7 linked regions of the Homo sapiens genome follow. The protein of the gene in region 4 interacts with the protein of the main gene of each other region in a pairwise test. Each region holds a gene or a part of one and is shown on either strand. Other genes may lie near its edges.

Evidence for each region.
Region 1: the proteins of CALCOCO1 (region 4) and TBC1D17 interact in a two-hybrid assay, tested with the Homo sapiens proteins (one large-scale study listed by BioGRID and IntAct).
Region 2: the proteins of CALCOCO1 (region 4) and TBC1D15 interact in binary tests that used the Homo sapiens proteins (3 or more experiments, as listed by UniProt).
Region 3: the proteins of CALCOCO1 (region 4) and CYTH3 interact in a two-hybrid assay, tested with the Homo sapiens proteins (one large-scale study listed by BioGRID and IntAct).
Region 5: the proteins of CALCOCO1 (region 4) and CWF19L2 interact in binary tests that used the Homo sapiens proteins (3 or more experiments, as listed by UniProt).
Region 6: the proteins of CALCOCO1 (region 4) and FXR1 interact in a two-hybrid assay, tested with the Homo sapiens proteins (one large-scale study listed by BioGRID and IntAct).
Region 7: the proteins of CALCOCO1 (region 4) and BFSP2 interact in binary tests that used the Homo sapiens proteins (3 or more experiments, as listed by UniProt).

Annotation. Positions count from the first base shown.
Region 1 is NC_000019.10:49,880,702-49,884,201, forward strand, and holds part of TBC1D17 (TBC1 domain family member 17), read left to right. Parts: intron 1-566; coding exon 567-774; intron 775-1,339; coding exon 1,340-1,451; exon of another isoform or gene 1,452-1,473; intron 1,474-1,540; coding exon 1,541-1,699; intron 1,700-2,062; coding exon 2,063-2,191; intron 2,192-2,271; coding exon 2,272-2,375; intron 2,376-2,560; exon of another isoform or gene 2,561-2,949; coding exon 2,950-3,044; exon of another isoform or gene 3,045-3,500. UniProt on the Homo sapiens protein: Probable RAB GTPase-activating protein that inhibits RAB8A/B function. Reduces Rab8 recruitment to tubules emanating from the endocytic recycling compartment (ERC) and inhibits Rab8-mediated endocytic trafficking, such as that of transferrin receptor (TfR).
Region 2 is NC_000012.12:71,919,759-71,922,285, forward strand, and holds part of TBC1D15 (TBC1 domain family member 15), read left to right. Parts: intron 1-954; exon of another isoform or gene 955-972; coding exon 973-1,089; intron 1,090-1,609; coding exon 1,610-1,696; intron 1,697-2,527. UniProt on the Homo sapiens protein: Acts as a GTPase activating protein for RAB7A. Does not act on RAB4, RAB5 or RAB6.
Region 3 is NC_000007.14:6,168,125-6,171,624, forward strand, and holds part of CYTH3 (cytohesin-3), read right to left. Parts: intron 3,191-3,500; coding exon 3,078-3,190; intron 2,855-3,077; coding exon 2,706-2,854; intron 2,523-2,705; coding exon 2,411-2,522; intron 1-2,410. UniProt on the Homo sapiens protein: Promotes guanine-nucleotide exchange on ARF1 and ARF6. Promotes the activation of ARF factors through replacement of GDP with GTP. Plays a role in the epithelial polarization.
Region 4 is NC_000012.12:53,710,453-53,713,952, forward strand, and holds part of CALCOCO1 (calcium-binding and coiled-coil domain-containing protein 1), read right to left. Parts: intron 3,449-3,500; coding exon 3,249-3,448; intron 2,755-3,248; coding exon 2,648-2,754; intron 2,395-2,647; coding exon of another isoform or gene 2,323-2,394; intron 1,670-2,322; coding exon 1,492-1,669; 3' UTR 1-1,491. UniProt on the Homo sapiens protein: Functions as a coactivator for aryl hydrocarbon and nuclear receptors (NR). Recruited to promoters through its contact with the N-terminal basic helix-loop-helix-Per-Arnt-Sim (PAS) domain of transcription factors or coactivators, such as NCOA2.
Region 5 is NC_000011.10:107,440,826-107,444,325, reverse strand, and holds part of CWF19L2 (CWF19-like protein 2), read left to right. Parts: intron 1-1,276; coding exon 1,277-1,387; intron 1,388-2,703; coding exon 2,704-2,823; intron 2,824-3,500.
Region 6 is NC_000003.12:180,964,670-180,968,169, forward strand, and holds part of FXR1 (RNA-binding protein FXR1), read left to right. Parts: intron 1-3,381; coding exon 3,382-3,500. UniProt on the Homo sapiens protein: mRNA-binding protein that acts as a regulator of mRNAs translation and/or stability, and which is required for various processes, such as neurogenesis, muscle development and spermatogenesis.
Region 7 is NC_000003.12:133,398,630-133,402,855, reverse strand, and holds the start of BFSP2 (phakinin), read right to left. Parts: upstream 2,801-4,226; 5' UTR 2,773-2,800; coding exon 2,284-2,772; intron 1-2,283.

The sequences.
Region 1 (3,500 bases), on a different chromosome or scaffold from region 4:
GCCAGTTAGGGTGATTTGCACCATCCTGGGGTCACACAGGGTGCAGGGGACATCCAGAGAAGGCACGTGACCCCTCTGGGGAATGGAGATTCCTTCCAGGAAGAGGTGATGCTGGAGCTTGGCACTGAGGGACTCTTGGGAGTTTTCTCTTCTGGCAGAGAGAGCAGCCCGTGCAAGCCAGAGGCAGGCGGCCCCCGTGTGTTTAGGGAGCCGCTGGCCTTTCATTGTAGCTCAAGTGTGGGATTTTGAGTGAAGAAAGGTTGGAGGTAAGATAGGCAGGGGCGAAGGACAGACCCGAGGGGCCTCGAGTGCCAGGTTGAGGAATAGGGCCCTTACCCTGCAGGTCGAGGGGTGCCTAGGAAGGTTCTGGAAAGGTACATGTCCACTGGGCCCCCTTCCCATCTTACTCATTTGTGCTTCCAAGGAATGTGAGGCCAGGGGCAGAGGGGTGGCTTGTGGCGGGGCCCTCAGGAGATGCCTGTGCCGAAGGAACATCCTGGGTTGTGGTTGATAAGGCTGACTCTGGCTTCCCACGCGCTTCCCCCAACACAGTGCCGTCTCCCTAGGTGCAGAGCCCAGCTGCCCCCAGGGCTCCTGGGCCTTCTCAGTGAGTCTGGGGGAGCTAAAGTCCATCCGCCGCTCCAAGCCAGGCCTCAGCTGGGCCTACCTGGTTCTGGTGACCCAGGCTGGAGGTTCCCTGCCCGCACTGCACTTCCACCGCGGGGGCACCCGCGCCCTGCTCCGCGTCCTCAGCCGCTACCTGCTGTTGGCCAGGTGAGCTCTCTCCCAGTGCTGGGCCTTAAACCGGGCCCAGTCCCACCATGGCTGCAGCGTGACCCCTCGGGGCTGTGAAAGAAACACAACTCACACTGATTTAAAGGCAGGCAAAGAGTTGACCAGCACATATAACTAAAAAGTCAAAAAGGAGTATTGATTTCAGGCAGGACCCAGGTCCCAAAATGTTAGAAACAGTTATCCTTTTTCCCTCTGAGTTCGTTATTCTCTGGGGCCCCAGTATCCGTGGCTTAACAACCCGGCTGGATAGAAGGCACCTCTTTCCCCACGTTCCAACAAGATCCCAGAGCTGCTTCTCATTGGCTCGTCCCTGAGTCAGTCACACTGGACCGGAAGGTGAAAGGCCCTCATTGGCCAGCCCCGAGTCATGTGCCCACCCCTGGGATCCAGCTGTGGGCCTCCTTTAACAGCATTCCCTGAAATGAGGGGTTGCCCAGGGGTGGTTGGGACGCTGCAGCTGGAACCGATGTCGGCCGAGCACAGACAGCCTGGGACACTGGGCCCCTACCTGTGCATCACCTGTGCGTCACCTCCCGCCTCCCAGCTCCCCGCAGGACTCCCGCCTCTACCTTGTCTTCCCCCACGACTCCTCTGCTCTCTCCAACTCCTTCCACCACCTGCAGCTCTTTGACCAGGACAGCTCCAATGTGGTGTCAGTGAGTGTCCCCAGCAGGAGGCCTGGCGGGTGTGGGCAGGGAGGGACGAGAAGGGGCGGGCCGTGACCTCCCTTTGGCCTCGTCCCCAGCGCTTCCTCCAGGATCCCTACTCCACCACCTTCAGCAGCTTCTCCCGAGTGACCAACTTCTTCCGGGGTGCCCTGCAGCCACAGCCTGAGGGAGCCGCCTCCGACCTTCCCCCGCCACCCGACGATGAGCCCGAGCCTGGATTCGAGGTCATTTCCTGTGTGAGTAGTGAGTGGACCCTCCCTGTTATTTCTGGCCGTGTCTCCCTGGGCGCATGATTTCATTTCCCTGGGCCTCAGTTTCCTCTTTGGTAAAACGGGGATGGTAATGGGACACCCTCAGGGGGTGCATGAGGAAAGCGCTCATGGCTCTGCCAGACACTGTGAGCACCTGCTCACCCTTATTGGGGGACCCCTCCTAACTGGGGGATGACTTGGCTGCTGAGCCCCGGAAGAGGCTGCTGCCTGCCCCTGAATGTTAGTCATCCGTCAAGCTAATAAGCTCTCTGAGCTTGTGGACTGAGGCTGGGTTGGGTCCCCCCACCACCCCGCCGAGCCCCAGGCTCATTTGCTCTTTGCCTGCAGGTGGAGCTGGGGCCTCGGCCAACCGTGGAGCGGGGCCCTCCAGTTACAGAGGAGGAGTGGGCACGCCACGTGGGCCCTGAAGGTCGCCTGCAGCAGGTCCCTGAGCTGAAGAACCGGATCTTCTCGGGGGTGAGTGCCAGGACAGGTGGAAGAATGGGGCAGGGCCAGAACAAGGCCCCACTGAGCTGCCTGCCCTCCTGCACCCCCAGGGTCTGAGCCCCAGCCTGCGGCGCGAGGCCTGGAAGTTCCTCCTAGGGTACCTCAGCTGGGAAGGCACAGCTGAGGAGCACAAGGCCCACATACGCAAGAAAACGTGAGTTCTCAGGAGGCCCTGCCCTGCCAGGCATGACACCTGGTACCTCCTAGGGCACCAATGGGCAAGTTCTGTGGACGCTGGTTGTGAACCTGCTGTATCTGGGCACCATCCTGCGCCTGTGGAATACGGCAATGATCAAGCCAGACCCATCCTCACCCCTGTATGGTCTGTCTCCATTGCAGTTTTCATTCCTGTGCCATACTGTTTTAATGATCACAGTTTTGCAGCATGTTTTATAACCTAGGAGGGCCCGTCTCTCCTCATTCCTGGTGTAGGTTATATACCTGCCAGGCACTGAGGATGCAGCAGTGCTGGACGATTCCCTGTCCCTGGTGCCCTGTCCAGTGGGGGGTGACAAATTTTCATCAAAAGGCCACAAGGCTATGTAGTGAGAGATGCCAGGAAGGTGAAGTGTAAGGGATAGTGGCAAGAATGACGAGGTGACCTGCTTGGGTCTGTGTGGTCAGGGAGGGGCTCTGCAGGGCTGACCTGGGAGGTGGCGCCAGGCTTGGAGGTCTCTGGGTGTTGCAGACAGTGGCGGCCTCACATCTTGTTTCCCTCTGTCACTCAGGGATGAGTATTTCCGCATGAAGCTGCAGTGGAAATCTGTGAGCCCTGAGCAGGAGCGGAGAAACTCACTTCTGCATGGATACCGCAGCCTCATCGGTCAGTGTCAGGGGTGGCACTTAGGGTGGATGGGAGCAGGGAACCACAGGAGGGCCTCAGGCATAAGTGCGAGTGGGAGATAGAGGGAGCCCCCTGCCTCCCCAAGACCAGTGAGAGGGCATCTTGGGGGAAAGCTGCATGGGCTGTTGGGGAATGGCCCTGGGGGAGCAAGGCCAGGGACAGGATGGGAAAGAAGGGGAGCCCAGCTCCCTTCAGGCCCAGTCTCAGTTCTGTCAATGCCTGGTGATCTTGGCAAGTGATTTTGCCTCCCTGGGCCTCAGTTTCCCCTACTGTGGGAGGATATAGCCAGCTGGTGAGTGGGAGGCCTGGCGCCTCACAGCAGGAGCATCAGTGATAGTTTCTAGAACCAGCTCTGCTTCTCCCCCAGAGCAAACCCCGAGGCTGGGGGCTGCCAGCAGGAGGAGCAGTGGGGGCTGGCACTGGTGGCCAGCAGGG
Region 2 (2,527 bases), about 18 Mb from region 4:
TGTTTATATCCTACTGCTCAAGGTCATCACCAAGGTCTGATTGAAAAATTCAAAAAATTGCATCCTCAGGCATAAATGGGTTTTAAAGGATGAATTAAGAATATTATTACCACATAGCTAGAATAACTCCTCAATCTGTGTTTACTAAATAAATTCAAACTTTTAATGAAACCTTTGAGGTTAATTGCATTGTAATTAAACTTTCAACAATTGGGTTTAGTTTGAAAATTATTCAACTTGATTTACTCCTTTTGAAAGAAGTAAACACATTTCGGGTATGATCTCATGGTATGGTTTGTGTGGGTGTTTTTATCTTTGTGGAAAATATATTATTAGGTACATGAAGCAGGGGGAAATTAAGACCCTAAATTCGAGGATATTATCTGTATTTAGGAACAGCTGAGCTGTTGATCAAGCGTTTTCTATGTTTGGTTATAAATTTGGGGCAGTTAATTCAGTTATTGTCACAATCAGGGATAAAATGTGATACAAGGGTTTTACGTATTTAGAATGTAGAGCTACCTCTGGGTGTTTCTGATTCCATGTACTGTGTAACTGAACCTTTTTTTATTTCCAGGACTTAGCTTTAGTCTTTTCTCAGATCGAAGTGAGAAACTGATACTTCAGAAAAATATTGAAAATACATCTAACCCTTACACCTTAACCTTGTGTCTGTAGCTCCTGCATTAATAACATTTATCATACTGGTTAGGCTCAGTAATTTACTTACTATAGTTACCTTAAAGAGCCACATTTAGAATATATCATATTCATATAAACTCGATGATAGTTACTTTGTAGCTGAAGGTAAGACTCTCCTTCCCCTCATTTCCTAGCTAGAAAAACCTTGGGCTACCCTAAACAGGCAACATCTACTTTGCATAGAAGTCATTCAGTGTTCAGAATTGTATCTGTGAGGAAAATGTTTTAGAATTGATACAATTTGCAAAATAGTTCTTCTGCCTTCTATAGGTAATGTGGACCGAACTACCATGTACAAATTTCCATCTTCTTCTCTGTTGTGCTATTCTGGAATCAGAAAAGCAGCAAATAATGGAAAAGCATTATGGCTTCAATGAAATACTTAAGGTAGTTATTCCTTTAATTCAGATTTTAGTGTTCTGGCTTTTCTATTTGGTGGTCCTGATATACAGAACGTTTCCTTGGAACATTATTAAATCTCTTGAGTAACTTAAATTGTGTCAATAACAGTGCTAGGAATGACTATCTGAGAATGACAGTTCAAATACATATTGGCCAGTTATTTTTACCTGGCTAATTAGGAAGAAAAGGAAATTCAACAAGTGCTCTTTTATGTAGTTTAGTTTTTCAAAAATTAATTGTCTTTTGATTATAACTTTGAGATATCAGACTTGGAATAGCTGCTGGATTTAATGTTCCATAAGCTTATTAGCTAGTCTTTAGCTTTAAAACTTGAAATAATCTAAAGAAAGATATATTGAATTTCTTACGTATTTGTAGTATATGAATGTTTTTATTTTAAGGATTTTATCTGCAGTGAAATATAACTGGTAATAAATTGTTTATATAATAGAATATAATAGTGTATTCAGTTTCGATATCATTTTATTTTGTTGATACTTTTTAGCATATCAATGAATTGTCCATGAAAATTGATGTGGAAGATATACTCTGCAAGGCAGAAGCAATTTCTCTACAGATGGTAAAATGCAAGGTATACAGTGTTTCAAGTAATTGCAAGATTTGTTTGTTTTTGGTGGGTTGAGATCAAGAAAGATTTTTCTTCTTGGAAATAAAATAGCAACTTTAGTAAGCTGAGGGCAGGCACAAAGTATTGGCTGGCTTTTTGTTTGCTGTTCTAGATTTACAGCACTTAATTGAAAACAGTTGACTATGGCAGATAGGAAACAGCTAATAATAAGGCAAAATGGTAAAAGTAATGAAAATATTTCTATAACAAAGAGGCTGTAGAATTTCAGCAATGATATATTACCCAGTTGAGCTCATGAATGCAGAATAGGCTGTCATATTAAATATGCAGAATCTCTAAACAAAAATGAATGCTAATCAGAAATAATTAAATCAATATTATTTAGCCTGTGTCACTCACTTATATTAGTCAAGTTATTAATTATTTTAAAACAAGGCAAATTTGATGTATTATCTGAATTTGAACCAAAGCAGTATACTTTTGATGTGTTTTAGCTTTTTCTTTCTATTAAGAGAAAGGGCCTTGCTAAGTTGCCCAAGCTGGCCTTGAACTCCTGGGCTCAAGTGATCCTCCTGCCTTAGTTTCCTGAGTAGCTGGGATTACCAGTGCATGCACACCACTGTGCCCACCTCATGACTTTGCTTTTTTTTTGAGACAGAGTCTTGTTCTGTTGTCCAGGCTGGAATGCAGTGGCGTGACCTCGGCTCACTGCAACCTTCTCCTCCTGAGTTCAGTCGATTCTCCTGCCTCAGCTTCCCGAGTAGCTAGGATTACAGGTGCCTGCTACCATGCCTGGCTAATTTTTGTATTTTTAGTAGAGACGAGGTTTCACCA
Region 3 (3,500 bases), on a different chromosome or scaffold from region 4:
TTCATTGCCGTTAGCAGGCAGGCGCGTACGTGCACACACAGGTCCACATGCACACACTTTCTGTATGGCAGCTCGGATTGGGCCACCTCCTAGGATTTTTTTTTTTTTTTTTTTTCTGGTGATTGATTCAAGACTCGAAGTCTTAAGTTACCAACAATCGTAAGCCACGCCTGTGTACACAGCAGGGCTCCTACGCTCTGGCAAAGCATCCAGGCCTTTTTAAGACCACCTGTTCTAAAAGCAAATCTACAATAAGAATGCAACCAAGCCAGGCCGCACTCCCCGCTGAGCACACGCCTGGAAGCACGTTCTAGATCCTGCACCCATCTCGTCTGCCTCCAGCCAGGGCCCTGGCTCGCCAGCCTTTGGTCTCGAACTTTGTTTCTGAGAACACAGCAGACATACAGGGTGCTGGGAGAGGACAAGGAAGCCAGCCCCTAGAGCAGCAGGTGCTCACCGGGCCGCCCACCACACTGAGGCCACGCCAGCTGGACCAGCCCCTCCAGGGCCCCTGCGCTTGGCACCCGGCGCCCAGCCAGCTCTTGGTTCCCGTGAGCACTGTGTGCACTCATTTCATGGCCTGTTTATCTGCCCAACCAGAAAACAGGTTAGACAACACGAGCTCTGCTGTGCCTTCATTTCATTCACACACTTACGTCTCTAGAGCCGACCTTTCCCTGGTGGCAGGGGTCACATTGGCTGCCAGGCAGGCTGATGGCGTCACTGTCCCTCGAGGGGACACTGGTGGGCAACGCAGGAACCAGAAGGGAGGCATCTAATCAAACGAACATCCCACTTATCCCGGCCCCAGAGTGCCTGCCGGCATTTCCGGTTACATTCCCCCCCACCGGCCCTCACTCTAGAACACTCGCACAATGTGATTTGAATCGGGTCTCTCAGGCACCCGAGCCAAAGACCATGGTACTAGGTTTTCAGGCAAATATCTACAACTCCCCTAAACCTCGGTACAGCCAGAAAAAAGTCAAAGAGCAATGGCCAAGGTCAAAGACCCTAATGGGAATGGCAGACCTGTGGGACTCACACCCTTTCCACCAGCTGAGGAGGCCTGTGCCCGTCACACCGTGTCTCACCCTTCCTTGATGTTTATTTTTTTGAGACGAGGTCTCACTCTGTCGCCGAGGTGGGAGAGCAGTGGCACAGTCATGGTTCATTGGAGCCTCAACCTCCTGGGCTCAGGCCATCCTCCTGCCTCAGCCTCCCTAGTAGCTGGGACTACAGGCACACACCATCACGCCAGGCTAATTTTTTGTAAAGATGGGGTTTCACTATATTGCCCAGGTGGTCTGAAGCTCCTGGCCTAAGCAATCCTCCCACCTCAGCCTCCCAAAGCACTAGGATTACACACATGAGCCACTGCACCCGGCTGATAAAATTTTTAAAAAATCACCAGGATGCTCCACTCCATGTCTCACGTGCTGCCCAGCGGCCGCCTGCTCTCAGAAAGGCTTGCGTGAACCCAGCTACCGCATCTCGCCCGCTTCACTGTGGGCATAAGGCAACCATCCCCGCCCCGCAGGCAAAACAACCCCTCAGCATTTCTAAAACTGCCCGTAATTGCCCTAAATTGCTCCAAAGGCCTTTAGAGCACTCCCGAAATCTCTCCATGCGCTGCTGGGTTAGTATGGGGTGGAGGGTGACGCCGCAGGGACAGGGCTGGCTGTCTGCTTCTCTACTGCTGCGGACCCCTAGAGACACAGGGTGGGGGGCAAGTTGGTTCCCACACAGCATCCCCATGTGCTCCAGGTCCCAGCCACTCTCAGCCCCGCCCCTGGGGGTGGGTGTAGCATTCACCACACCGTGCACGGCGCAGCCCCAGCAAGTCCACAGATGGATCGGATGAATGGCAGCCACACAGCGGAGCTCACACAGACCAACGTGGGGAGAGCGAGAGGAATGAGCCGCTGAGGGGGCGGGGAGCCACTGGGTACCTACCTCCTAAAGCAGGACAAGCAGGGACAGCCCGTCACAGAACAGAAAGGTGGGAGCCACAGGCAGAAGGAAAACAACAAGAAGGCACATTTAAACCACGCGTCAAAAATCACAGCCACACCAAACCGAGAGAGGCACACAGGCTCTGTGGAGATAATGCGCTTGCTTCTCGTGCAGGAAGCTGCCCTGGCTGGATCTGGATGCTAACTCAGCAGTTTTCTGGGACGGGCCGTGCAGCCTGGGCGCTACTCTCTGCCGCGGGCATGGCTCTGAGGCCCCGGCTCGGAGAAGCAGCCGTGGCCATGCAGCTACCGAGAGCGGGCTCTGGCTTAACCGCGTTTCTTTTTAACGTCTCTGCCTGCGGTGGGGGGCATTCCTACGATGAGCCTGGGAGGAACCCGAGGGGCTGCTGCCATGGGCAGAGGGGTCACGCCCGGGTCCCGCTGGGCCGGCGGCTCACCCAGCTTCAGGAGCCAGCCCTCGCGGTCGGGGTTGAAGAAGGTGTGGGTCAGGTCGTTCCCGTCGTCCTCCGGGATCTTAAATGGCTCGTTCTTAATGCTCTCATACAAATTCTGCAAGGAGGGAAAACAGCAGCCAGTTCAGAGACTCGGAGGAAAATGGCTGGCCGGGCAGAAAGCTCAGCGGGACCAGGGCGGCAAGGAGGCTTGGGAGGCGTGTCTAGAGCCGCGGGCGCTGCGGCCGCTCACAGCGAAGAGATCCTGCAGACGGCAGCGGCCGCGGGCCGGGGAGCTCACCCTCAGCAGCTCCTCAGGGAGGTCCCCGCCCTCGTTGATGCCGCGGTTCATGGCGATGAACCGTTCTGCCGTGGGCTTGTCACGCACGTTGTGGTTGTGGAGGCTGGTGTTGAGCATGATGATGGCGAATGACAGCACGTAGCACGTGTCTGCAACGAGTCCGGGGTGCTGGGCTCAGCCAGAACCTCCAGTGGACAGTGGGACCCCGCGTGCTGGGGGCCCGCCTGCAAGAGGTGCCCGGCCCACAGGTCGTCCTCGCTCAGGGAAGGCAGGTCCCCAGGAACACACGCTGGGCTGTGCCCACAGGGGCCGCCCCCTCCAGAGCTGGAGGCTGTGCCTGGCAAGGGGCCAGGCTGTGGGCTCTGCACTGACCTGTGGACTGGAAGACCCCGGGGTTGCACAGGCAGTAGCGAGAAGCGAAAGCCTCCATCATGCGATCAATCTTCTGCGCCTCCCCGGGCAGCCTGAAGCTCCATAAGAACTGCCTGTGGAGACACCAAAGCCATGGGAAGCCGCATCAGAACCAACACCGCCTCACGGCCAAGGGCGGCTTCTGCCCAGCTCAGGAAGGACGTTTTCCTCCCGAGCCTGGGGTACAGCTCTGGCAGGGGCTTGGGGGCGCAGAGACAGAAAGGAGAAGACCCAGGACAGTCTCCTTCCGTTCCATAACTCGAGACACGCTTACTGATGGCTCATCTTTTTGTAACTACAACCAATTCAGCAGCGAGGCCGGTTGTCTCTGCCTAAAAAGTAAATATCCAGGATCCTGGCACTTCTCTGTCCCCATTGCCACCA
Region 4 (3,500 bases):
CATGTGCTTGTGCAGGCCATTGCTGAGAGCCTTGGTGAGCGTGCAGGTCCTTAACAAATGCTTTACGATGCTGTGTATGTGTCTGTCTAGCCTGTGAAGCTGGTTAGAGTGGATGAATGTGTTTTTGTGACTGTTGAGGCAGAGTGTGCATACAGGTATGAGGGGATGGCAACAGAGAAAGAAACAGAAACAGAAACAGGAGGAATATAAAATCGCCTTTAGAGGTATGAGGCTTAGGGCATTTTTTACTAAGTAGATACTCAAAGGTGTACGCTCTTGACAGGAATAAAGCCTGTCCTTTGGCATAAGGTACAGTGATGGCTGCTATGAAGGGTGAAGTTCTCGGCAGTGGGAAACTTGTCCCACTTTTCCATGGCATGCACCCACCCTGGGACTAAACCCTGAGCAGAAGTGACAGGGACCCATGAGTTTGCTCCCTCCCCAACTGCCGCATTATCCAAGCCAGACTCCCACTTGAGACAACCCACTCATGGCCAGCACACCAGGAGGCACGACAGGACAGTAACTGCCCAGCATCCCCTGCCATGAGGCAGGGATGCGTCCCCTCTTTCCCTCCTCCCTCCACCAGGGTCTAAGAGCTGGAGGTCTGGGCCCTGTGTTCCAGTCACACCTCATGATAAGAACACATTTTGTGACAACAGTCATACATATCATATAAATATATTTGTTCAAACTACAAAGGGATGGATATCAGGGGGAAGCTTTTATTGCTGTGGGGGGACCTGGAGAGGGAGGGGGGCCTTGGAAATGGGGATACCTGGGACCACTTGTTCCCCCCATTCCTCACAGAAGGCACAAATACATTATTTCTTTCCATGTGAGGAGATGCGAGGAGAGGATACAGAATACAGGAATCCTCAAAAATACAAAAAACCCCTCCAAACTGAATACCTAAGGTTATGGAAAAGGCTAGGGTGGGGCACAGAAGTCAATGGGGGAACAGAAAGAGGAACCAATGAAACTGAGAACCAAAAGGGACCTGAGAGGCCATGATGTCCATGCTGCTGCCTCTGTGCAGACCCCAGAGAAAACTCAGGTAAACCAACGGAAACTCCAAATAAGAGAGGGTAGGGTGCCCCAGGAATTGGCTTTGGGGCATCAGACAAGGGAGTGTGAGTGTGAGTGTGTGTGTGCAGTGGCTGTGTATCAGAAGCAACCAGGGCTAGGAGTGGACGATTCTATTCCCACAGGGGAAGGCCTCCTCCATCCCGGTTCCTCCAAAACCACTTTCAGGGGATAAATTCAGCCACTGCTTCCGAACAGGACCCCTCCCTGGGACAAAAGAGCCAGGTAGGAGAGGATGAAGTGAGAAATCTTGGGATGAAAACAGGGCACACAGAAGCAGTTCTTAGGGAACAGAATATCATGGAGCCCAGTGTGATAGAAAATGGGCATGAAACCTAAGTGTATGCATGTGTGTGAGTGTGTGTGTGCATGAGTGTGTATTTGTGCATGTACGAGGGAGTAAGATCACTCAAAGGTGAAGGGGTCCTGGGTGCTGAAAAAGAAGTGTCCATCCATGTGGTCCTCCAGGGCATCCTTGTCACTCTCAGCAGGAAAGCGCTCCTTACAGATAGGACACTCCTTCCATGTGGGGGTGGCAGGGCCCCCAGTGCTGGTTTCTGACAGGGTACCCACTGTAAAGCCACTAAGAGAGACAGAGGGGAAAGGGAGAGGGTCGGCGTGCTCTGTTCCCTTCTTGACTTGCAGACTTCGGAGAGCAGGACCCATGTGCCTGGGTTCCCAGGTTATCCTGTGCCTAATGCAGCATCCTGGCCTCTCCCACAGCGTCTTTCTCCCCACAATCCTGGAAGGCTTATTTTTCCAGTTCCCCATGTCCTCTCTTCTTTAGTCCCTGCTGGTCTCTGCAGTGCAGAGCCCATCCCCCAGCCTCCTGCTCTCCTCCCTCCATCTCCGTCTGCTGCCTAATGAGGCTGAAAATGAGTCTGACATCGTCCTTCATCTTCCTGCTCCAGCCGAGAAGGATGACAGCATCACCCCCTCCCTGCCCTGAGCCCATCTCACATCCAGGCAAAACCGGGACTAGATGATCAAATCTCTCTTCCCTGTGCCTGCCCCCTTGAACCTGGGAATAAAAGGGAAGGCAGAAGGGGACAATCTGATACCTGAAACCCCCACCTCTATAGGTTCCCTTCCCTAAGGGTTACCCAGGGAAGTCAGGGAAGAGGGAAAGCATTTCAGTTGTAGCCAGATGGATGCTGGATCCCAGTCTTCTCTCTGCTCCTATCCCTGGGGGCCATGGTCACCTCCCTTCCTCCCCGGAGGACCCTAGGTACCTACCTGGTGGTTGGGGAAGGGGTAGAGGCAGGAGAGAGGGGAAGCAGGGCAATTTGGGCTCTGCAGAAGATGGTGCTAGAACAACATAGAAGCCAGTTAAAGGCAGGACCTCTGAGTGCATTGATAAGATAGGGGTAGGGATTACCTGAAGGCATCTGGGATTTGGAGCAGTGAGTCATTTTCCTTGTTAACCATACCTGTATCTCCTTTTCTTGGCTGAGGCCAAGAAGGGCAGGGGTTGGGAGCAGGGCCTGGTGACTGTCCACACAGATGCCCTTTCCCTCTGACCTCCTCCCACCTCCCTCCTGGCCTTGCTGGTTGAACTCACCTGGCCATGTCATAGAAGGCACTGCCCAGTTCAGGAAGCAGTAAGTTGGCCTCCTCACCCCCACTCTGCACAGCTGCCATCAGGACTGACTTCTCATCTTCAGCCTCCTGGATGCCAAAGAGACAGGGTTGGGCTTTGGGGTGGTGTCCCAAGATGGGGGAGCAGCACATTGGGACAGGTATGGGAAGAGCAGCCAAGGCTAGGACAGTGACCTGAGGGGCTTAGGAAGAGTGAGGCAGGAGAGGCGTTTTGAGGGGCTGGTGAATAATAAGAGAATGACTGTGGGGGAGAAGCAGTGAGGCTATTGGGCTGGTCTGGGTTTTGGGATGATATCTACTGGTGTGGCACTGAAGAGAGGCTGGGCCTGCCTCCTCTCCCCTGGGAAAAAGAGAGCCCTGGATAGCTAAGATTCCTTCTCTAATTAGCCGGGGGTGCCTGCCTGTGGTCCCAGCTACTCTTGGGAGACTGAGGTGGGAGGATCGCTTCAGCCCAGGAGGCAGAGGCTGCAGTGAGCCAAGATCGTGCTGCACTCCAGGCTGGGACACTTGGGTTTGGCCCTGCCCCTCCTTACTGCTTCTGCACAGGCTCCTCCACTGCTCACCGAGTCAGAGCTACTGTCCTCAGCTGGCCCAGAGAGGTGAGGAGAAATGGGAGCCGGCTGGCTGATGACAACAAGGGGAGAAGCCTCTCGAGGCCCAGCAGGAGAGGAGCCTGGGTCTCCACGCTCACAAAGGCCATAGGGTGGGAGCCTCATGTCTTCTGGGGACTCGTCCTCTGAGTCTGTCAGAGCTGCCGGGCAGCCTGTAGGAGATGAAGCAGGCAGAGAAGAAAAAAGGATGTGTTGTGAGGAGTT
Region 5 (3,500 bases), on a different chromosome or scaffold from region 4:
TGGAAGCCACTGGTGAGTTTGGAGAAGTTTCAGTAGATTAATGGGGACAGTAGATGTATTGTAGAGTTTTGAGAAAATGTATGAAAGTGAGAGTGTGAAGGCGGTGCATGTAGACTACTCTTTCAAGAAGTTCATCTGAGAATGGAAGCCGGAAGATTAATTCCTGCTAGAGGAGGAATATACGGGGTCAAGGAAGGTCCCCCTTCCCTCCTTAAAAAAAAAAAAAAAAGGGTGGGAAATGCTTGAAATTGTTTCTAGGCCATTAGGGATCTTTGGTTAATGCCGTGAGAGGAGAAGATAATTGATGGAGCAAGGTCCTGGAGGAACAGAAAGAGTTATCAAAATCTTTAGAGCAAGATCTGCCTTAAATAGGAGGAGTTAACTGGAAATAAGGATAGGCACAGCCATAAATGTTTTGGGCGGTGGGTAGGAGGATAAGGTGGCCCTAGTTTTCTTGATGAGGTAAAAGAAGACATCATTTGCTGAGAATATGGGAATTGGTATAAAGCTTCAGGAGGGTGTTGAAGAAGATAATGTTATCTGCAGTTTTAGATCAAGGGAAATCTCAAAATGTGAAACTTAGGGGCAAACAGCAAATTCGTTTACCTGGGTGGTGTTTCCCCTGTTCTAGTGAAGCAGAGATGTGAGTAACTACTTGACGTTGGTAGTCACTGAAGCTCTGTGCTGAAGTGAGGTCTCTACTTGGCAGTTCCCATTTTTGTTTTTTTGCCTTCTCTTGGCTTGATAATAAATGGATGAGAAAATAAAAATAATTTGGTTGTGTTTGGTGGGCTTAACTCAAACTAGTGGGTTTATATGTTTTTTCTTTAAAAAAATTTTTTTTTTTGAGACGGAGTCTCTGTGGCCCAGGTTGGAGTGCAGTGGTGTGATCTTAGCTCACTGCAACCTCTGCCTCCTGGGTACAAGCGATTCTCCTGCCTTAGCCTCCTGAGCAGCTGGGATTACAGGCATGCGCCACCACGCTTGGCTAACTTTTTTGTATTTTTAGTAGAGATGGTGTTTCACCATGTTTGCCAGGCTGGTCTTGTACTCCTGACCTCAAGTAATATGCCTGCCTCAGCCTCCCAAAGTGCTGAGATTACAGGTGTGAGCCACCACACCCAGCTCTTTAAAATTTCATTGCCATTTTGTAAAGGGGAAATACAGTGTAAGAATTTTTTTCTACGATGTTGAATTTCTACCACTTAACAGCACAGAATTTTTATATCAAAGTATGCAAATTTGACAATTTCACTTATATGCTAAATGTTCTTAGAGCTCTGAAGATGAGTGGGTTGAGGCTGTTCCATCCCAGACTCCTGACAAGGAAAAAGCCTGGAAAGTGAAAGATGAAAAGTCAGGAAAAGATGACACCCAAATTATCAAGGTAAGCAAGCCACTTGATTTTCCTTCCTTGCTTTCTTCCTTCCTTCCTTCCTTCCTCCCTCCCTCCCTCCTTCCCTCTCTATCCCTCCCTCCCTCTCTGTCCCTCTCTCCCTCCCTCCCCCTCCCTCCCTCCCTCCCTCCCTCCCTTCCTTCCTTCCTTCCTTCCTTCCTTCCTTCCTTCCTTCCTTCCTTCCTTCCTTCCTTTCTTTCTTTCTCTTTCTCTCTCTCTCTCTCTTTCTCTCTTTCATTCATTTTAGAGACAGGGTCTCACTCTGTTGCCCAGGCTGGGCCGCAGTGGCACAATCAGAGCTCTCTGCACCCTCGACCTCCCAAGCTCGAGTAATCCTCCCACCTCGACCTCCCTGGTAGCTGGGACCACAGTTGTGTGCCCACCACGCCTGGCTAATTTTTTTATTTTGTGTAGAGTTGGGGTCTCCCTATGTTGCCTAGACTGGGTCTCAAACTCCTGAGCTTGAGCAATCCTTCCACCTCAGCCTCCCAAAGTGCTAGAATTAGAGACGTGAGCCACTGCACCTGGCCTATCACTTGGTTTTAAAGAAAAAAGTATCAACTTTTGAGAATAAATGAATATGAAAATGAAAGATGATTAAAATTTCTTCAGGAGAACAATTAGACTTTGAAAACAATATACTTTAGGAATAATTTTGGCAGTACTGCTGTTTGCTGAATGTTTAGAACCCCCTTCCCCTTCTACTGTGAGAAAGTGAGTGTTCCTCTCTATTCTCGTTCCTTAGAGGCTTTCATGCTTTTGATTGTTGATAAGAAGTGGCACTTTCCCCTTATGTCCCTAAAGCCTTATACTGTATCTCTGTCTGACCCTTCTATAGTGAGTGGAGTTCCATCACAGTTTTTTTTCCCTTCACCTCATGCCTTAATTTTCTTAACAATACTTAACAGTTGAATAGTTCAAAAATTTTGGGCTATAGTTCATCTGCCTCAGGAAGAATGTAATTTGTCCACTGTTAGCCACAGGTGAAGGAAGAAAGGTGAACAGGAACTAAGTTTGATTGCTTGTTGTGTGCCAGGCTTTGGGCTGGATGCTTTAGATCTGTTATCTTGTTTACTCTTTAAAACAATCCTGAAAGGTAGGGATTTTATACCATTTTATAGAGGAGAGACTAAAGTATAGAGAGATTTAGAAGCTTGCTTCAAGTTATATAGCCATGTAGGACTTGTTTCAGGTTTGATTGCCTCCAAAGTCCCTGCTCTTATTACCAAGTGTTTATTAAATTCTAATCAGTTCAGATTGAAATGATGAGTGGATGACTGTTGATTTTATGTCTTTTTTTTTAACAGAGGGATGAGTGGATGACTGTTGATTTTATGTCTGTTAAAACTGTGTCATCATCATCACTCAAAGCTGAAAAGGAAACTATGAGGAAAATAGAGCAAGAGAAAAACCAAGCGCTTGAACAGGTAAGAGAATATTTGAAATGCTTTAACTTTCTAATTTACCTTTAATAAACTTACAAGACATTTATATAAATGCAGTTTAACTTGTAAAATACCATTTTATTTTTTATAGTATTTAATACAATTAGTGAGAACAACTATGAAATACATCAGTTTAAGAAAAATAAATTTCCTATAGGAAGTGAGTTTAAAGGTTTACTAGATTTATAAATCTAGGGCATATATAAAGTTGAGTGAATATTGAGTTTAATATCATTAAATTGAAAGTGAACTCACTCAATTTTTGTTTCAGTGTACATACTGAATTAGACACCATGAAAATACTTCCATTTCAAGACATCTAGAAATTCTGGTGGATATAATGTAAAATAAGCATGCTTATTTTATACTTTATTGTTGTCACTTTGCTAGTAAGGAAGCAATAGGAAATCTGTAGAGACCAAAAAATGAGGCAAAAGCATGAATCCAGAGAAGTAAGGAAGTGCTGAAGCTGATGACTTTCCTAGGGGCATCACACAATCCTGGTAATCTGGAATTCCAATTTATACTGTACCAGGAGCATATGTTTCTTTTCCAGTACTCAGTATCTGTAATTGTCAAACTTTATATATTTTTTTATCAGCCTAATAAATGGGTGAGAAATGGTATTTCATTGTTTTTGTTCGCATTTATCTGATTGC
Region 6 (3,500 bases), on a different chromosome or scaffold from region 4:
GATTTATATATATATATATATATATATATATAATGAGTACTGTAGTTTTATCAGTTTAATAGGAACTATAAGAAACATTTCCCAGTATAACATCTCTGAAGTTGGTATGTGTGTTAAATTGGACATCTTACAACTTTAGCAGCATTTTCTTTTTTAATGGCACATAAAATAATGTCTTAAAATTGATGGCCTCTTGGAGTCGATAAAACGTGATTATTTTTAGCTGTTAAGCTTAGCACAACCAACCATTGAAAAATGATATAAACCATCTTCATAAGGTGATTTTAGAAGTTTGAGGGGAAAATATGATTTTAAAATTGGTTAAAAACACGATGTCATTATGTTTTGTTACTTTTTTTTTTTTGAGACGGAGTTTCGCTCTTGTTGCCCAGGCTGGAGTGCAGTGGCACAATCTCGGCTCACCGCAACCTCTCCCTCCTGGGTTCAAGTGATTCTCCTGCCTCAGCTTCCTGAGTAGCTGGGATTACAGGCATGCACCACCATGCCTGACTAATTTTGTATTTTTAGTAGAGACAGGGTTTCTCCATGTTGGTCAGGCTCGTCTCAAACTCCAGACCTCAGGTGATCTGTCTACCTCGCCTCCCAAAGTGCTGGGATTACAGGCGTGAGCCACCAGCCTGGCCTAGTGTCATTACTTTTAAAGCTTGTTTAAAAAAACGACTTTGAATCACCAACCTGTGTTTTACAAAATTGAGAGGCTGGAATAAATGGTTTCCCTGATTTTATTAGAGTATTTGTTTTCTATTGCAGTAATAAATTATCACAAACTTAGAGGCTTGACCACAGAAATTTATTATCTTATAGTTCTGTTGGTCAGAAGGCTGACATGGGTCTCACTAGGCTAAAATCTTGTCAGCTGGGCTACGTTTCTTTCTGGAAAGTCTAGCGGGGATTCCCCTTTCAGTAGTTTAGAAAATTTCTCTACTTTTAAAGACCCAGTGAGATTAGTTTGGACCCACCTGGATAATCCAGGATAATCTCTCTATCTCAAGGTCCTTAACCTTAGTCACATTTGCAGAGTCCTTTTTGCTATCACAGAAACATTTAATATGTGTTATTAACAGTTATTTAATATGAGTAATGTTGAGCACTAGCCAATACATTAAAATTTTGGGGGGTACGGCCTCAATATCTGTTTTACCTGCTGAAATCTATGATTTAGACATTCCCTCTAAGTCTCTTGAATACTATATGTAGGTTAAATTTAAGGAAGACTTTACTTGCTGTGACACGGGGTTAGATAAATACTACACTGGATTTCTAAGGATACTTCAATATGAACTTTTGAGAGAGTCTTCAGAATGAAGTATTCTTCATTTGCCCTGAATTTTGGTAATGTTTTCAGGTAGGGTATAGGTTTGTAAATAAATTCAGAAGTTCTTAAACATTCTGAAAGGCTTTTTTTTTCACTATTCAAGGAAAGATAAATTGCCTTCATTACAACTTTTATGACATCCTGTTAATAAAGTACTTTTTGTCATTTGGTGAAATAAATGTTAGGGGAAATTAATTCCCTTCCCTGAGATTCTAATCCCAACAAAGAATTGAAAGTGAGTAATAGAAATTTGATGTATTCTTTGAAAAATACACATCCAACTAATTACCTAATTGTTTTTATAATTGACTAGTTACATCTATTAACACCATGTAGAGAAAAGGTAGGCATCCTAGAGTTATCGTTAAAGGAGAAAGGAAGTGAGGCACCTTCATGTATAAAACTTTACATTTTATTCCCTGCACCTTAATACTTAAAACTTCTTATGTCTGAAGAGCTCTTGTTTGCATTTTTCCTCAAATGATTGCAGAGTTTAAATATAGGGAACTTCAAGGTATTTCATGAAATCACTCTTATCTGAGAGTTTAGCAAATGAACTTCAAAATAATGCAGCAAATTATTTGGTTGAGAAAATTGTTATACACTCTGCCAGGCATTTGAGGACATATAAGATGGAGTTCCACCCTTTATCATAGACCAATTTTGAAGTAATTCCACAGGGGGAAAAAATAACAACATGGCACAGTCTGTGATAGATGTGGGGCGATTTTAGGATAACAAAAAATGGGGAGAGATCTGTCTTAGTTGCAGTGGTCTGAAGTTAGAATTTGAACTAGGCCCTGAAGGAGATATATTTGGTCATATAAGAGGGAAAGAAGAAGTGGCATCCCAGAACTAACAAGTGGAAATGAATATGATAGTGATTGAGTCATATGTATCTGACATTTGAGTTACAGTAATTATTAAATAATGATAATGTAGGCCTCTGATTATATCTTTGTGGTGTTTAAATAAATTTTTGAAAGGTCACCATTACAATAGTTGCAGTGTTAGAAATGGTCTGTAAACTTTTAAAGGCAATGCTGAATATTTGTCTCACTGGTCATGGCTTCAGTTCTGTTGTCAGGTGAGAGACCTTCTGTTTCAGAGAAACCTTAAATTCTGTTTAGTAATTGCAAATATTAGGTTGGTGCAAAAGTAATTGCAGTTTTTGCCATTAAAAGTAAGAAAAGCAAAAAGTAAAAGTAGTTACTTTTAATGGCAAAAACCGCAATTTAAGATGCTAGTAAAACATGCCATCATTTTATATACAACCTACTGGAAAAATTACTTCTAGCTTATAATAAAGATGCCATCAATTATAAGAAATATCTTGATTTCAGAGATGTTAACATGTGAAAAGTATACCCTAGAATCAATGAAATTATGGTGAAATACACTATACAGTTAAACTATTCAGTTTTCTAAATATGATTAATTTACTCAAATATTGAAGTTATTTTTATTGTACTAATAATTTAGGTTACTAAAACCCAAATCAGCAGAAACATTTGACTATCCATACTAAGTACATTCTAATATTGATAAATGATGTTCTGTATGGTTTTTTTTTTTTGGTGCCAAAACCTAGGAATTAATGTTCTGTATATTTTCTGTAATTTTTCTGTTGACTGCATTTCTGCACATCAGTTTTTTTTTTAACTTCCATGACTTTGTATTTCCTGGATATTATCCCCTTTTGCTGATGAGATGGTCACACCTTTGACTATATTACATGACATAGCACATCTTAGCAGACTGCAGTGAGGGATTCTTCTGCTGGTTTTGAAGAAGTGAGCGGCCTTCTGCACATCAGTTTATTTTTTAATCTGTATTAACTAGTAGATACTATACTAGTATATTAATAGTATAATAATTGATTATTCCTTAGTACGTTTCAGATTGATTTTAACTTTCATGGATCTTTCTTTGAAGCAGCCAAACAGTATTGCTTATTTAAACAATAATTTGTAGGACATAATTTTGAACATTTTAAAAGGCTTTTTATAGAAATCTAAGTGGTTTATGTTCTTTTCTTTTCCAAGGTACAAATTCTGAGCTGTCTAACCCCTCTGAAACGGAATCTGAGCGTAAAGACGAGCTGAGTGATTGGTCATTGGCAGGAGAAGATGATCGAGACAGCCGACATCAGCGTGACAGCAGG
Region 7 (4,226 bases), on a different chromosome or scaffold from region 4:
GCCTGGCCAACATGGTGAAACCCCATCTCCATTAAAAATGCAAAAAAATTAGCTGGGCGTGGTGGCGTGCACCTGTAATCCCAGCTACTCAGGACGCTGAGGCAGGAGAATTGCTTGAACCCGGGAGGTGGAGGTTACAGTGAGTTGAGATCGCACCACTGCACTCCAGCCTGGGTGACAGAATGAGACTCCATCTCAAAAAAAAAAAAAAAGAAATAATAACTCCATTTTATCAATTGGTCTTACTCTATCTTCAAGTCCATGATTTTTTAAAAAAGAAGAAAAAGAGAACTTTATTCATACCCAGGCCCTCATTTATAGTCACTTAAGAGGAAAGTGAGCCCATGTGGGATCCTGACCCTCAACTACAGAGGTCGCATGTCTTGGTGTGTGGCTGTGGTGCTCTCACAGGATTTTAGAGCTTCCTAGTCTGTACTCTACCTGTAAGCAGGAGCCAGGCTCTTATTTGTCTACAGATTTGCTGGAATATGTAAGCATTGTTATACCCATTTTGTAGATAATGAAACTGAGGCCCAGAGAAGTTAGTAAGTTGCAAAGGCTCTTGTAGCTATCTGGAGCCAGAACAAGTCAGTATCTATTGAGTATAAACTAAGTTTTGTGGCCCTACTTTTTAACCTAGCCATTGGGATACCTGATTTCTCCTGACAAGTCTGTGTGGCATCTGATTGCAAGCGATTGTCCAGCAGATGCTGACATATTGGAGTATCTAGGGATGTTCTGGTGGTTGTTATGGCACAATATTTGGAATAAGGACAGTTGTGAAGAATCCTGGAGGAATGGCTGCCTCTTAGATTTGACAGGCGTTAAGGCCCTGGACTGTTCTAAGATGGCTCTCCCTTGCAGCCCAGATGGATGCAAGCAGAACAGCAGCACCAGGGGGAGAGCCTGAGAGGATGGTGCTGTTCATCATGCACTCTGTGCTGTCAGTGGGCACTGACAGCAGTGCAGGAGAAGCATCCTGGGATGAAGTGGGAGGCAGGAGGGGCAAATGGGGAGTCCCTGTGTGCAACTGCTTAGCTTCCCCCAGCTATACACAAATAAAATTTTGTGACCTCCTCTTGGGAGGCTGCATACTGGACTCCAGGGGGCCAAGGGTCTGAGTTGGCAGTCCCTGGTGGGTTAGAGACTGATTTTGCTCAGAGGGATCCCAAGGCCAGCATCTGGAGAGAAAGAGGAGGAGGAGAGGTGAAGCCAGCTATCCACAGAGAGACCAGCTGAGAGGTGTAATGCTGGCTGGAGTCCCAGCATTAGAACTACAGGCTGCAGGCCAGACATGATGGATGTGCTCCAGACTCCGCAGAAATCACCCTGGAGAGTGGGAAAAGCAGGGCTGACCAAGCAAGGGAGAAAGATGAAACCTCTGCATCCTTCCCTGTCCAATAAGATAGCCATTAGCTACCTGTGGCTGTTTACATTTAAATTAATGAAAATTAGATAAAATAAAAATGCAATTCCTCAGTCTCATTAGCCACATTTCAAGTGCTTGATAGCCATATATGGCTAGTGGCTGCCAGATTGGACAGTGCAGATATAAGATATTAATATTTCCATCACGCAGAAAGCTCTACTTGAATGTAAATTACCTCATTAATATATTTTGTATTGATTACATGTTGAAATAACATTCTGGACATATAGAGTTAAATAAGCTATAATATTAACTTCACCTGCTTCTTTTTACGTGTTTTACTGTGGGTAATAGAAACTTGTCAATTACCAATGTAGTTCATATTTCTATTGAACAGCGTGGTTGTAGGTGGATACAGGAACACACCTCCATTTATTCATTGTTCTTAACACCTCATCCATCCAATGGTATTTGATTGGATAATAGCTGTAAAAATCCCTTCTCAACAGTAAAGGTGACTGAGGCAGCCCCAGGGTAATGGGGCAAATGCAACTTTGGAGGCACAAAAATTCAGGTTCAAATCTCATCTCCATCCCTCTACTAGCTTTGAAGTCTTGGGCAAATTACATGCCTCAGTTTCTCATCTGAAAAATGCAATCAGTGAATGATCCACTGCATAGCATTTCTTTGAAGTTTAAAGAAGACAGTGGGTAGTGCACGTATGGGGGCTAGCGTGGGCTCCTAGTAAACCTCGGTAAAAGGTAGCATTGTTGTTATCATTACCATTTTAAGTGTGAAAGTGTAGGGGATTATGGTCAGTTTCTCTGGCCTCAGCCTACTCACAACCCTACCCGCTGCCTTCAGCAGCCCCTCCCAGCCCTCTGCAAAGCCCTTGGCACAGCCTGGACACTTACCTGCTGGCAGCTGCTGGCCCAGGAAGCCCGTAGGGCACCCCAGTTTCCCGAGCGTGTGGCTTTGCTCTCCAGGTGCATCCGCAGTTGTGTTTCCAGCTCCTGACTGACTTGCTCAAGGGCGTGCACTTTGGCCATATATTCCACCAGGCAGCCCCCTAGGTCCTCAACAGCACCATGGTCCCTCTCCAAACCTGGAGCCGGCACGGTGGCCAGGCCTGAGCTCCGCAGGCCCTGAAGGAAGACACTGCTGATGCCGAGGGCCCGGCGGGTCACACGGGCACCCAAGCCACCTATGCACCCACTGGGTGCTGTTCCTACATAGACCCCGGGTGCTCGGACAAGGCCACTCATGGCATTGGTCCTGGAGGCTGGGGGGCTCTCCAGGGAGGATGATGACCGTGGCCCCCTGAAGGACGCCCTGCGCCTCTGGAGGGGCATGCTGGAGCTGGCACTGGTGGGCAAGTCCACTACCACTCGCCTCTCACTCATCACCCCTTCTGCCTCTGTGGTGCCCAGTGGGTTTACAGAGTCCAGTGGCTTTTGGTTTACAGCCCCAGCATCCCTGTGGCCTGGTCACGGGCCTCTCTGGAATCTCCCCTATCCCTGGGGCTGCTTTGTCTGCTGTCTTCCATGAGTTTCCATCATTCACTGAGCTGAAAGAGAAATGGGCACTGCCCAGGGCTGTGTGCAGAGAGGCACTCATGCATTCTTTGATGCAGGGTCATGTGCCCAACCTCCCAGATTATTCTGCTGGTGGTGGGGGAGGCTGGATCAGTGCAGGCTGTGGAGGTAGACCATTTGGGTTTGTGCATTTTACTACCTAAGTGGGCAAGGCAGGCATCAAGCAACCCCATTTTACAGATGAGTAAACTGAGGCTCAAGGACCTCAGATGACAAGTGTACTGATCACTTGCCCCAGACCTCAGATTACAAGCTAGGACTCAATCTAGCTATTTCAGGGCTTTCTACATCCCTATGTGTGCTGGCACATGTGAATGTGAACACATGTCCACACAGGCAATAGAGGATGAAAAATGGCAGGAGGCAGCTCCAGGGACCCAAGAGAAAAGACTTGCCTATGGTTTCCTCTCTCAGTCCTGGCAGCAGCTTCAGGTCCTTCCCTCACCTCTCTCCTTTCCTCCTCATCTCTGTCCTCTAATGCTCTGCTGTTCATCAGCTGCTTGCTGTTGGCCAGGATGCTTCCTCCCTCTGGACCTCACTGTCTGAACATTGGCTTGGGCCTTTAACTCTCTGATGCACCAGATAAGGACCTTGGGCAAATTCAGATCCCACACATGTTCCGGCCATTCCCTACACCTCTGCTTCTCCATCTGTTGGAAAACTGAGAAATAAAAACAACAACGAGGGTGTTTTCTGGTAAGCCTCTCCAAGGGTGCCCCAAGTTAGGATATGATGACACCCCTGGGTTTTAATTATTGACCTTGGCATCCACTAAGCCACCAAGGGTCACACCTCAATCACTTCTCTAGGATCAGAAAGGTTCCCCCAGTTACAGGATGACAACATGGACCTAAAAACCTCTGTACATAAGTTTTACCCTGGAGAAACCAGGTCACCAAACCCCAGAGCTGGATACTTTTCCAGATGCTGTAATGTAGGAATGTACCTCAGGTGAGAGAAGGAGAAGGGAGTCAATCTCTAGTGAGTAGCAGATCCAGCCTGGTGTGTGCATGAATCCTATGGTTTATTTCGTGGAATTCTCAACTCAACCTCAGGAGGAAGGAGGTCCAGGGTTGACAGGTACTGCCATATGGGCTGTGTACCTCACAGCTCTAAAATGACATGTCCTACAGTTGGCCACTGTCCTCTTATGTGAGGAGGACCCCGAGAGCTGCAATGACTTGCCCAAGGTTCTATGTCCAGAAAGTAGCAGAGCTGGGGGCAGACAACCTCTTCCAAACTCTGGGCCACTGACTTACTTA